Linked DNA regions of Homo sapiens. The protein of the gene in region 1 interacts with the protein of each later gene in a pairwise test. Each region holds a gene or a part of one and is shown on either strand. Other genes may lie near its edges.

Region 1 (3,500 bases):
GTGGGCACAAGATGACACAGTCTATGATATTCAGTTAATCCTCAGTTTAAGAATCTGTTGGGGGCCACTTGTATTTTATTTTCACATATCTCTTGAGCTGAAGGAAGTTACTCAAGTGTTTTTGATTTAGAATACCACCTGCTGTGCCCCAGGCTCAGGAAGCAAATGGATATCTATTCTAGACCATGGGCAGAAGTAGAGGGGATAAGGCGAGGAGCACAGAGGAGGGTCAGGAAAACATTTACTCCAATAAATTTTATATTATGTCTTTGGACATAATGATTTGAAAATAATAATTATATCATTTGGATATGATTTCAATAAATCAAATGTTGGTAAGACATATTGAATAAATCTACAATCTAACTGTACAAATTCAGAAGTAATATCCAAGTAAAGCTTGGTTTTGTTTTTTTCACTGAATCTATTGATTTCTACTGACCATTAGAAATAACCATTGTAAATAACTTTGGTTTATTTTATGTTGAGGGTGGTGAGGGATTAGACCTGAGGAGCTTGGTCTTAGTGTATTGTGAGCAAAGCCATTGTCACTCTCATGGCAATCCTGTCTGCTTTGAGTTTATTTGTTTTTCTGAGTTACTCAACTTCTTAGATGAAGATGGCAAGTGTTAAGGACTTAATATAATGCTGCGGTCATATTAAACTTCTCTTTCACCAAACTGTTCTTTGGACACAATAAGAATAGTTACATTTGTGTAATTATCATTGCATTTAAGAAAACTAAGAGGCACTGATTATTTCAAATTCTTATTTTAAAAAATGTTATGTTTGGTCCTGTTTCAGATCCCGTAATATCTTGTGCCAAAACGAAACAATTGCGAGTTGTAAATGGGATTCCAACACGAACAAACATAGGATGGATGGTTAGTTTGAGATACAGGTAATTATTAATAGATGCAAGTCATGCATATCCAGAATATGTACAAGAGAGTCCTATTCCCAGAAATATGGACACATGTGGTCCTGAAGGTTGTACCCTCCACAGGGCACCTGGGTGAGGCAGTAAAAGAGGAAGCTGATCACATCTGCTTGCCAGACTGTAAGCTCTGGACTATAATTTGTGCCTCCAGAGGTAGTGCCTTTTTAAATCTTCACAAAGGTCCCATATGTGTTGGCAATGTCCCTGATTCTAAGAGACACTTTGGTTCCGATTAAGCAAAATACGGAGGACCTATTGAAACCTTAATATTACCATAGTAGTTATGATACTTGTTATTAAATTTCCAATCTAGGATATTATGGGTTTATTTTCTAATATGTTTATGCATGATCATGTCAAAACATTTATATTTGTTTTTAATTTCTGACTTTTTCCTTGTCAATCAAATGAAAAATGGTAATTTTAAATTCTAGAGCATTTTATCTTTACAAAAAGGCCAATAGTTAAATAGTCTTGATATTATAATAATCAGTGGGGATACAAAATTCTTGACATGTCTATTTCTCAATGCTCTTAAGAATCAATGACATATTCTACATAAAATCACTTTGCAAATCATATTGTTAGAGAAAATTATGCTTAATAATTATGTCATAAGAATTAAATACTGAAAATATAAGTTAACTTAAAATCTGATCTTACAACTTTCATATACTACATATATTATTCTGTATGTTAATTGGAATGCTAAAATATTTATGTCTTTGGCTATCTCTATCAGAACCTTACCATGCAACACACCCCAAGATACATTGAATTTGAACCACATTGTCTCTTGTTTTCTAGATACCTCACGTTTCTTCCTCTAAGCCTTTATGCTGTTGTTCCCACAACACACTGTGGCTTTCTTCCTCCATGTTTTATGCCTGAAAATTCCTTCTCCTTCAAATTTCAACCTAAATATCCCCTCTTTTAGAATACCCTCCTGTTCCCTTACCGCTAGCCTCCTAGAGTAGAGAAAAAGAATGTCTGTTACTATTATTAAATCACAGTGACATTAGAATAGAGACAACTTGAAACAGAAGTCCTTTTATGAATAAACCAATTATTGGAAAGCAAGAGTTTATATAATTTGATATATATGACTTTAGATGACCACAATGTTGTAGGAGATGGCCTAAAGTTCTTTTTTTAGTATACCCTTTTCTCAAGGAATGGCTTATCAGATTTTATAAATATTTATGCCAATAATTGTAGTATAGCTGTCCTAGGTGTGTAGTACTAAAATAGAATTGTGAAACTAACCAGAATATTAAAGCTGAGTGTGCAGTATGAGGATTTAGTAAAGACTTTAGAATTCTGTTGGAGTGTTTAATTTTCTTAATTATAGAAAATCTTTCAAGAGGCTGGGTGTGGTGGCTCACACCTGTAATCCCAGCAGTTTGGGAGGCTGAGGCAGGTGTATCACTTGAGGTCAGGAGTTCAAGAGCAGCCTGGCCAACGTGGTAAAACCCATCTCTACTAAAAATACAAAAATTAGCCGGGCATGGTGGCACATGCCTGTAATCCCAGCTACTGAGCGAGACTCTGTCTCAAAAAAAAAAAAAAAAAAAAAAAAAAAAGAAGGAAGGAAGGAGAAATCTTTCAATAATCCACATTTGAGTTAATTGGTGATTCTTTGCTTATCTTATAACCCCAGAGGATAAAAGAAGACATATATTAATACTTCTAAGTTATTTTTTCCAGTAAGAGAATTCACAAGGATACTGCTTTGGTCATCTCCATTGTTGGAAAAGCAGGTGAAGCTATTTTTCCATCAGATTAGAGTACTGTAAATTTTTAGTTTTTTTCCTTTTTAAATCCAAGTTCTTAGCAACAACAGCTGCTTAGTTATTCTTCCAAAACTCATACTGAAAAGGATAGAAATTAAAAGTCAATATATATTCTTATCCTCCTGTGTGGTAAAGGCCATAAATAACTGTGGTCTCAGTCTGGGAATCTTCTAGTATTACCCTCTGAAGCACTGAACATCTGTACTCTTTGGAAATGTAAATTATGAAAAGTTGTGCTTTTTCCATGTCTCTGCCAAAAAAAATGGATTTACAGATTTTGGATATCATCAAAAAAATGTACTAGTACTCATCATACTCTGCAAATATTTTACAATTTCCTAAATGATTTGCCTTGCAAAATTGTTTTACTTTAGAGATGAAATATTATATTCCTGATCTTATACTGGACAAAGTAATTTATTCAGATTCAGTTACATTTTATGTTAATATATCAAAACTACATAATGGTAGTAGAAGAAGGAAATAGTGCACGAATAAAATTGCTACCACTAGATGGTTTTCAGGGTTCAAACAAGAACTCAACTTTGCATTTTTAATAAGCAAACACTGAATTTAAAATAGATTCACATTTTTAAGAAATTATAATTATCCTATATTTGTAGCACATACGTTCCTCACAAGGATAGATGCACATACACACGAATATGTGTGTTCGGGATGGCTATTGATGTGTAATAACTTTAGACTACACAAAAGTCAAATTGATTTCATAAATTTATAGTCACATTATGAAAAAAAAGCTAACG
Region 2 (3,500 bases), on another chromosome or scaffold:
TTACTAAAAATACAAAAAATTAGCCGGGCGTGGTGGCGGGCACCTGTAGTCCCAGCTACTCAGGAGGCTGAGGCAGGAGAATGGCGTGAACCCAGGAGGCGGAGCTTGCAGTGAGCTGAGATCGTGCCACTGCACTCCAGCCTGGGTGGCAGAGCAAAACTCCGTCTCCAAAAAAAAAAAAAAAAAAAAAAATTAAAAACCATTTATTTCTCAAGATGTTCATTTTAAAATATCTCTAAAAAGTTTCAATGCTCTGATTCTTCGGAGAAAATTCCAGTAAGAGAAAAAATACACTGGTGAAAGAAAATTCAAGCAATTGGATGATTTTTTTTAAACAAATTGAAGAAAATAAACCTTCTAAACAGAAACTAGTTGATGGCAGGTCCATAGATCATATGTCTAAACCTGGGGTTATCACCGCAGCTGTACATAAAAATGACTTGAGAACATTTAAAAATATATTAGTATCTTGGCCCCTCCCCAGATCAGTTAAATCAGAGTCTATGAGGATGAGGCCTAGGGGGCAGTGATTTTGAAAGCTCACTAGAGTTTTATAAATGAGCAGCCACAGTTGAGAATCATTGGATTAAACTGGTGATTCACAATGGTAGACTCAGCTTTCTCAAACTTTTCACACCAGCCTCGTTCTTACCAAAATTTCCTAAAGCACCCAGAATCTTGGGAAAAGGGGATAGGTGGGAGAAAGGTAATAGGGAGAATAATTTGAAGAGACTTAGCTAGATAAGATCATTCCCCATTACCACCCCTCTTGAGAACTACTGTTCTGTACTACCCAAGATGCCTCATCTTTTTTTTTTTTTTTTTTTTTTTTTTTTTGAGATGGCGTCTCTCTCTTATCACCCAGGCTGGAGTGCAGTGGTGCAATCTCAGCTCACTGCAACCTCTGCCTTCTAGGTTCAAGCAATTCTCCTGCATCAATCTCCCGAGTAGCTGGGACTACAGGTGTGTGCTACCACACTTGGCTAATTTTTGTATTTTTAGCAGAGATGGGTTTTCACCATGTTGGTCAGGCTGGTCTCGAACTCCTGACCTCAAGTGATCCGCCCACCTTGGCCTCCCAAAGTGCTGGAATTACAGGCGTGAGCCACCACGCCCGGCCCCTCATCCCTTTTTTTGATGTGACCTTAAACATCTGAGGATAAGGCAATAAATAAATAAATAACCAACCAACCAACCATCCACAAAAAACAAGTCTTTGAATCCAGAAGGCAAAATCATGAACCCAGGTCAACCTGGCAGAGGTACTACCACATCCAGCACACTCCCTCAAGGAAAACAGACAGGAAGCAGCCTAGAAGATATATCTTTTAAGAGGCATCCAACAACTATTACACTAGTGCTCGAGGCTCCAGCCCCTCTCTAGTCATCCAGCCAAAAACAAAAACAAACAACTGCAGACCAGCCTCATACATCATCAGGGAAAAGTACCAGAAATGAGAAGGGGCCTAGGGCTAACAAAGAGTCGAAGAGCTCTTAGGTTCACAAGCAACAGACAGTTGCTTTGTTTTATGTTTCTTCCATGTTTCCTGATGAATGCTGTATTCACAGCTTTTTTTTTTTTTTTTTGAGACGAAGTTTTATTCTTGTTGCTCAGGCTGGAGTGCAATGGCGTGATCTCGGCTCACTGCAGCCTCCACTTCCCAGGTTCAAGCGGTTCTCCTGCCTCAGCCTCCCGAGATTACAGCTGTCCACCACCATGCCCAGTTAATTTTTTGTATTTTTAGTAGAGTCAGGTTTTCACCATTTTGGCCAGGCTGGTCTTGAACTCCTGACCTCAGGTGATCCACTCGCCTTGGCCTCCCAAAGTACTGGGATTACAGGCGCGGGTGCCCTGCCTCACAGCACTTCTAAAAACCATGGAGGCTGAGGAATGAAGCCACGGGGAAGATGTTCCTTCAGCTTCCTCAGTACCTCAAACAGCCTTCAGAGCTCCAGGCCCTTCCCCAGCAGTGAGTACTCAGAACGGCTCCCCTCCCAGGGTCACAGCTGGGCCTGCCACCATCTCCGAGCCCCCTTCCTCCTAATTCTCATCTACTTCTCCCGGATGGCCAAATACGCTAACCTGGCTCAGGGGTGTGCTTCACTTCTGGCATCCTGCTTCCAGCATCACTTGCCATGATCATTACTATCAAGCCATGCTAGGCATCATGACCTCTATGCAGATAGAAATTACTGGATTGTCTAGAGAATACTTTCCCCTCTTGCTTTTCTTGACTGCCCTGGCAGTTTTCATGAAAATATAGTTCACCTCATGAGTATGGCTCCCTCCCACTTTCCACCCCAACTTCCTTTGGATTCCCTTCCCAGAACTTCAGCATTGTCTCTTATGGTGGGCAAGTTTCTCCACAGTTAGCAAGTATTCAGTAGCAACCAAGGTTCTACAAGACTTCTGGGGACCTAAGAAACACTCTCAAACTACCCACTATCTTCTCACCGAAAGTAATTCTTTGCCTCTACTTCCTATCCCCAGGCCTCTAGTGGGTCCTATCAGCTTTCTCTTTATGCTTTAATCAACATCAAATTGCTTAAAGCTCACATAAAGGAGTTTCTTGCTTTCGTGACATTGTGAATGATGTTCCTTCTGTTTGGAATATGTTTCCTTTCCTATTTCCCTTTTGTCTGGAAAATTCCTCTCGTGATCGCAGCTCCAGATTTATCTCCTCCAGAAAAGCCTATCCTGAGGTCTTCCCTCTGAGTTCCTTAAATCGCCTATGCCCCTATCTCTATCACTGGACTTGCCACATTATACTATAATTATTCATTTATGAGACTTCTCTACTTGACTTTGGGCTCAGTGAGGGCAGGGAGTGTGATACGGTCATCTTTGCTTCTCCAGCAGAGAGGGCATACTCCACAAATGCTTTCGGAATGAATGTATGCATGATGGATTCAACCCCGATGGAAGAAATTCATGAGAACTCATCTTCTTCTTTCACACTGACACTTGGGAGGTGAGGCTGTCTTACCACTGTGAGGTAAAGTCAACAAACTCTGCAGAGAACTTGTCTGCTGGGAGTTGTGGCGATGGCTCCTCTACCACCTGTTTGAGCTGCTGAAATGGAGTTCCCCATGAATCATAGGGAAATCGAAGGATGGCCAACTCAATCTGGAGAAAAGAAGAAAAAAGGAGACAACAGTTTCAACAGGGCTGCTTTAGGGAATCACCCACGTTTCATTTGTGGATAGACAGCAGGAAACACAAGGCAAAGTTCAAGTATAAGTCCAGGGGTAGGGGGGCAGGAAATAAACTAATAATTTGTTCTCTAGCAATTTTCCCCAAATTCCTAGTGCTAGGGATTTTTAAATATTACTTACTAGACACAGCCACTTAAGCCTATCTAAAATGGGGACCCTCACTAAAACCCACTGTGGCACTTCATAAAAATTGTAAGCCAACCGTATTAAACTTCAGGATGTAAAGCTACGAGGATTTCAAACGTTTGGTCTGACAAGTAATTCCCAGCCTAAGATCTTTCCAG
Region 3 (3,500 bases), on another chromosome or scaffold:
GCAAAGGCATCACAATGCTGGAAGAAATCAAAGTCCCATCCATCAAATTGGTGTACACTTTGACGGTCCCCGAGGCCACGGTGAAAGACAGTGGAGATTACGAATGTGCTGCCCGCCAGGCTACCAGGGAGGTCAAAGAAATGAAGAAAGTCACTATTTCTGTCCATGGTACATTCCGCTTTCTAAAATGTCAGTTGTCCATGCTGCTCGGGATCCATATGTGGTAATCATTATTTAATGGAAACTCTTCCCTGTACAGAGAAAGGTTTCATTGAAATCAAACCCACCTTCAGCCAGTTGGAAGCTGTCAACCTGCATGAAGTCAAACATTTTGTTGTAGAGGTGCGGGCCTACCCACCTCCCAGGATATCCTGGCTGAAAAACAATCTGACTCTGATTGAAAATCTCACTGAGATCACCACTGATGTGGAAAAGATTCAGGAAATAAGGTAAAGAAACTCTCTGCCCAAGTATGCCTTTTTTTAGTGTGCATCAGAGGCGGACTGAGGTTTGTGTGTGTCTTACAACCCAGACCCAAAGTCAGTCTAGAAAATGTAACAATCTGAGTTAAGAGATGCTTGAAATCACATCCCTTTAATGATAACATTGCAAAGTGGTATTAGTATGCTGGTAAGTATTTAATGAGAAGATGAGAAGAAAGAACTAAAAGCTCTGGCCCCTGGGGAAAGACAGGTCACTGGATTCAGCTAGGGTGGAAGAAAGGAAGTAAAATTGGACTCACCAGGATTGAATAGATTGAATATATTCCCTGATGTTCATCATCCATATCGCAAGTAGACAGATATGGTGATTACACCCATGAGGCAGTTATCACATCACCTTACGTGAAAGTTAACGTCATAGGCTTAATCTGGAACCCATTTGCCCTAATTGAGGACTCCACAGGAAAGAAGAGTAGAGCCTGGCTAATCAGGAGAGAGATGTGCAGTGAGTTGCTTGGATCCCTACCTTTTAATCAGAATGGTAGATTGCTCTCATCTCTTAATTGGTGGTGGAGTTTTGAATGAGTCACCCCTCAGCCACAGTTTCCTCATCTACAATGTAGGATAAACAATACCTTATGTCCTTCAAGGCAAGGAATTGGATCAGATGATATCATGAGGCCTCTTAAGGTTTTAAGCTGTGATTAGAACCCAAGAGTCAGAAGATACATCTCACAGCACCCAGCTAACCAGCCCTATACTTTTGTCAGAAATCATCTCAGAAAGACAAAGTCAGTCCTGTATTTCAAGCCTTCAGGAGGAAGAACAGAGCCTTTCTCATCAGTTCCATTCACCTCAGGATTTGCTTTCTTCTTTGTGAACTAAATTCCACGTGTAATTGAGAAGCAATGTCTGAGAAAATGGAATTTTACAGCCTCTATAGAATAGTAAAGGAAAAATGAAGTGGGATACTGAATCTGGAAGGCTTTCTGTTGACACAAAATGAAGGTGTACAACAAGGAGGGCAGCTTTCCACGAGGAACTTCCATGAGGCTGTGCAGCCAGAGAGGAATAGGGTAACAACCCTGGTACAGCTAACACCTCCAACACGTGTGTGAGCACTGTCTGCAAGCCATAATCCATAGCAGTGGCAGGACAGGCTCGCCAACTGAGTGGTTCTGGAAAGCTGCCTTTTCCTTTTAGTGATTCAAGGATGCTTCAACGTGGATTTTTTAGTTCCTGTTATGAGCCAGTGAATACAAAGATGAACATGGTAGATGGGGGATCTGGCTTCCTGGAGCTTAAAACTCCAGGATGGGGGATCTGGCTTTCCTGGAGCAAGAAAACCAGTGGTTTTCTTGGCCGAAGAAGTGAAGAGAACAAACAGCAGAGGATAATTTGGTAATCAGCATCCTAGTGTGCCCCAGGGTACTCTCTTAAGGAAATCCAGTCCTGGAGCACACCCAGTATGGTCCAGCCTGCTGTCTTCGTAGGTCTGAGTGCCCCAGTATTTGCAAAGTGTTTTGGAGCCTATGAAATGCTTTCACACATACAATCTCCTTTAATTAACTCTCACAATGACTCTGTGCTATGTGTACAATTATCACGTTTTACACACAAGGAAACTGAGGCATGGAGCATTGTAATAATACCCGAGATCTTCTCACTCCATGACCAATGCTTTTCTTCTCCATTCCAGTTGCTTTTTCAACTGTGATGATTTATAAAGGACAATCAAATGGGCACATACTATATTTATGCACATACATACACACACACACACACACACACACACACACAACCAGATGTCATTTATAATCCATGTAAAATATTTTTGGGGAAGTTTCTCTTTAATAAAGTTTGAAGAGACATATATTTTTTTTTTTTGAAGAGGCATATTTTTTCTAACTTTTTTTTTTTTTTTTGAGATGGAGTCTTGCTCTGTCACCCAGGCTGGAGTGCAGCGGTACGATCACGGCTCACTGCAACCTCCGCCTCCTGGGTTCAAGCGATTCTTCAGCTTCAGCCTCCTGAGTAGCTGGGATTACAGGCATGTGCCACCATGCCTGGCTAATTTTTTTTTTTTTGTATTTTTAGTAGAGATGGGGGTTTCACCATGTTTGTGAGGCTGGTCTCGAACTCCTGACCTCAAGTGATTCACCTACCTTGGCCTCCCAAAGTGCTGGGATTACAGGTGTGAGTCATCACACCCAGCCTATAACTTTTTTTTAATAGGTGATAGAATCCCGTGCTTGAAAAATAATCAAACAAAAAGAGAATGCATTGTAAGAAGCCTCACTGTACTCCTGTCCCCAGCTGCCCAGTTCTCCCCTCCTCCCCACAGGGAAACATCTTCATTAGTTTCATTAGGTTCTTATGAAACCTTCCAGAGTTTCTTTAAGCAAAATACAAGCAAGTAGGACTGTCATATCCTGCAGACCGCTACATACAAATACATAGAAAGTGTCCTCATTCTATCCTCCAGTGATATTCCATTTTTTGGCTGAACCACCTAAATGATGGATATTTAGGGGAAGCAAGTATTTTTTAAAAAAGGTAAAAATCAAAGGTTTTTATTTTTTATTTTTTTAAAGAAAAGTTGGTAGGCTGTGTTTATTCATTCAGAAGTCAGGCCGTGGCTGAACTGATAGCTCTTGGAGATGGCCATTGCTCATCTCTGAATGTCTGGTTTTCTCTTGTAAGAATTGTGTGTATGATCCAGACCTTCAGTGTGTGCACTATATATTGAGAATTCCAGAAGAGATGATATGGACAAGAAAAAAAGATGACTTTACTTTTTACAGTAAAAATAAAACTTAAATTGAAGAGTACAATTGTTTAAACAATTGGAACTTACTTAGCTACTGCTTGTTGAAACAAAATCCTTTTTTTAAAAGGTATCGAAGCAAATTAAAGCTGATCCGTGCTAAGGAAGAAGACAGTGGCCATTATACTATTGTAGCTCAAAATGAAGATGCTGTGAAGAGCTATACTTTTGAACTGTTAACTCAAGGTATGTAAAGGGAGTATAAAGATAATGCTAGCTCTGTAGATGAG
Region 4 (2,912 bases), on another chromosome or scaffold:
CTGTGTTACCCCGGGCGTGGGGGGAGGGGCCCGTCACTCGTGAGCACAGCTTCTCCCTTTGTTCTTTAGAAGGGCACGAGGTCGCCCCTCCTGAGCCTCCTGAGAGGAAGTGTGCACGCTTGGACTTTGGGAAGGATTTCCTCTGTCTAGGCAGCGATTTGGGAAAGCAGCCGTGGGGTGGGCATATATATGGGGAGGAGAACACTTGGAAGCCAAAATCCAGTCCTTCCTGGGCCTCTCCTGCTCAGGCCCCAGACCAAACCTCTGCCATCCACAGGGCCACACCCAGCCTGGCCTCCATGGCCCCTGTGCCCTTAGGGGTCCTGCAGGTGTGTCAGGAGCCTCCCAGAGTGCTATGAGCAGATTATGGGAAGTACCCAGCTGGGCTCCAGGCCTAGCTCCACCCCAGTCTCAGCGGGTCCCTGCCCGGGGTTGAGTGCCTTGGCATCTTCGAAGCCGAGTTTCCTCCTCCTCCTCGCAGCTCTGACAGTGCTCTGTGTGCCTCTGAGATAGACCCACGCAGGGTGTCCCCAGGGCAGGTTTCCCAACCTCGAATGAGAAGGTTGGGGGCGGGCACTGCATCAGCCTAGGATGAGGCGGCCTGAGCATTCTCCTGTCCCCCACAGTTCTGACCTGTGGTCCAGAGGGGCCATGCCGTCCCCTGCTCTACCCAGGCCTGGTCCTTGACAGCCCCTGCAGGCGCTGAGGTTGGGACAGCCAGGGTCCACATCCCTCCTGGCTTTGTGATGAGCTCGTGGCGAGGCCATGCGGCTCTTTAAGCAGCCTCTCTAGGGCTGCAGTCAAGGCTGGGGTGTGCTGGGAAAGCAACCCTGAAAGCCCAGCCTGTGCAGGTGGAGGACAGGCCCAAGAGGGGCTGAGGAAGCTGGAGGGAGGAGAGAGCTGGGGGGAGCGAGGAAGCGGCCGCTGGACAGGGAGGGAGAAGAGCTGGGGGCAGGCACATGGCGCCCTCATCTCCCCCATTCTCTGTCCTCGCTATGGCTCCCCGAGTCTCACCATGCAAGCTGCACAGTTTTGGGTAGGAGAGGAAGCCACTTGGTGTAAGTTCCTGGGCAAGAAGCCACTTGGTGAAGAGGAAGAAAAAGAAGGCTTTTCACTTTTCCTTTCACCTCTGACTGTGGCCTGGTAACCCTGGGGTTGTCCCTGCTTTTTTCTGACCTTCCCTGGGAATTCCCAGGAGGCCCTAAGATTGTGGATGTAAATCTTGGTGCTTCAGGACAGCAGAGAAGAGAACTGGCTAAATAGAATCTGGTCTGCCTGTGTGATAAGTGGGTTAGAACCAGAGGCAGGCCACAGGGCAACAGGGCCGGCCCCTCCAGAGTCCAGCCCCCAATGGAACTTCTCACCAGGAACCCAGAGATCCTGTGCACAGCCCAGCACATTCCTCCCCCTCCCCACTTCCCCTGACATGTTTGCCTTCCCTCCAATTGCAGGTGGTGACTTCTTTTTATAGGAGAGCTGTAGACAAAGGAGAAAGCTAAAAGGGATTGACATAGCCTCTGACGAGATGATTCTTTGGTCTCTGGGCACCAACTGAACCGGAAAGCTGGCAACACAGTGCCAGGCCTCGGCTGACTGGCCGTGCGAGTGATGCCGGGCAGAGGAAGGGCCAGGCAGAGTGTGCAGCGAAGACAGGCCCTCGCCCTTAAGCACCTTCCAGGCTAGTGCGAGCCTCAGGAAGAGGTGGCAGAGTCTGAGATGTGCCAGCCAGCACTCCACACGCTTGGTGCTGACTACCAGTATGTCACTGCTCGTCCCTGGGCCTCAATTATCTAGGCCGTGAAATGGAGCTGATAGCCTCCCTCGTTACCTCACAGGGTTACTGGGGAAAGAGATCAGATCCAGGCTGAGGGCAGGCCCTGGAAAGTACAATGAGCGCGGGAGTCCGAGGACTGCCTGTCACAGCCTCCTCCTCTTCCCCGCAGGGCCACCCGTTCATCGTGCAGTTCAATGATGGAAATGCCGCCGTGGTGTCCATGTGGGTGTGCCGGGCGCTGGAGGAGAGGCGGAGCCAGCAGGGGCCCCCGTGAGGCTGCCGCAGGGCACTGAAAGCCCAGGACCAGTAACCAAGGAGAACAACCCACCCGTCGCCCTTCTCCGTATGCTGCCTGCGCCAGAAGAGCTTTGCTGGGCCCTGGCTTCCCTGCCCTCGCCTTCACCTCTGTCAGCAGGTGGCCTTGCCTGGGGAGCCCCATGTGTGGCCCACCCCACCAGGCCATCCCCATACCTTCTGGTTTGAAGGCGCTGACACTGGCAGAGAGGTAAAGGGTGGGGCATTGAGAATGGAGGCTCCCAGGGTCCCTGCCCACTTCTGTTTTCCTAATGTTTTTCTCTATAAAGGGTCAGGCCCGTCAGCATCACTGATGGGAATAAAAGTATTAATGCTTTGTGACAGCCTCTGCCATAAGAGTTGTGTGGTCCAGGGGGTCTGTGACCCCCCCCAGGGCTGGGGGCAGGTGGGATCTCCACTTCAGCAGGGATGTGTGTGACAGTGCCTGCTGCCTGCCCAGGCACCTGCAAGCCTCCTGCTAGCTCCTCGCAGTTGTGCTGAGGCCCACAGCCCAGCTCCACTGTCAGATGAGAAACAGAAGCACGGAGGCATTGGGATGGGTCCCATGGCAAGGAGTAGGCCCGGATCTCAGGCCCCCGCCATGAGCTCCTTACTGGACTGCCAGACACATCCACCTGACCTGCGTGGCTGAGGAGGGAGTGGGCTGTTCTGAGAGGCCCTTCTCCACCCCAGCCCCACCCCTGCTCCTCACTGCCCTTGACCCCACACCTGCCACCTCTCACCTCTCAGGAAATCCCCTCAGCCACATGCCAGGTAAGCCTGGCTACCCCCATTTTGCAGGTGAGGAGCTGAGGCTCCAAGGGGCTCAGGATTCCACTTGAAG

What was found. Proteins that work in one complex are often made in the same cells at the same time.
Region 2: the proteins of HGF (region 1) and MAP2K6 come close enough for resonance energy transfer, tested with the Homo sapiens proteins (one large-scale study listed by BioGRID).
Region 3: the proteins of HGF (region 1) and PDGFRA come close enough for resonance energy transfer, tested with the Homo sapiens proteins (one large-scale study listed by BioGRID).
Region 4: the proteins of HGF (region 1) and MAP2K5 come close enough for resonance energy transfer, tested with the Homo sapiens proteins (one large-scale study listed by BioGRID).

What each region holds. Positions count from the first base shown.
Region 1 is NC_000007.14:81,707,548-81,711,047, reverse strand, and holds part of HGF (hepatocyte growth factor isoform 1 preproprotein), read left to right. Parts: intron 1-804; coding exon 805-901; intron 902-3,500. UniProt on the Homo sapiens protein: Potent mitogen for mature parenchymal hepatocyte cells, seems to be a hepatotrophic factor, and acts as a growth factor for a broad spectrum of tissues and cell types.
Region 2 is NC_000017.11:69,526,197-69,529,696, reverse strand, and holds part of MAP2K6 (dual specificity mitogen-activated protein kinase kinase 6), read right to left. Parts: intron 3,128-3,500; coding exon 2,988-3,127; intron 1-2,987. UniProt on the Homo sapiens protein: Dual specificity protein kinase which acts as an essential component of the MAP kinase signal transduction pathway.
Region 3 is NC_000004.12:54,267,293-54,270,792, forward strand, and holds part of PDGFRA (platelet-derived growth factor receptor alpha isoform 1 precursor), read left to right. Parts: coding exon 1-168; intron 169-259; coding exon 260-449; intron 450-3,340; coding exon 3,341-3,456; intron 3,457-3,500. UniProt on the Homo sapiens protein: Tyrosine-protein kinase that acts as a cell-surface receptor for PDGFA, PDGFB and PDGFC and plays an essential role in the regulation of embryonic development, cell proliferation, survival and chemotaxis.
Region 4 is NC_000015.10:67,804,703-67,807,614, forward strand, and holds the end of MAP2K5 (dual specificity mitogen-activated protein kinase kinase 5), read left to right. Parts: intron 1-1,943; coding exon 1,944-2,048; 3' UTR 2,049-2,412; downstream 2,413-2,912. UniProt on the Homo sapiens protein: Acts as a scaffold for the formation of a ternary MAP3K2/MAP3K3-MAP3K5-MAPK7 signaling complex.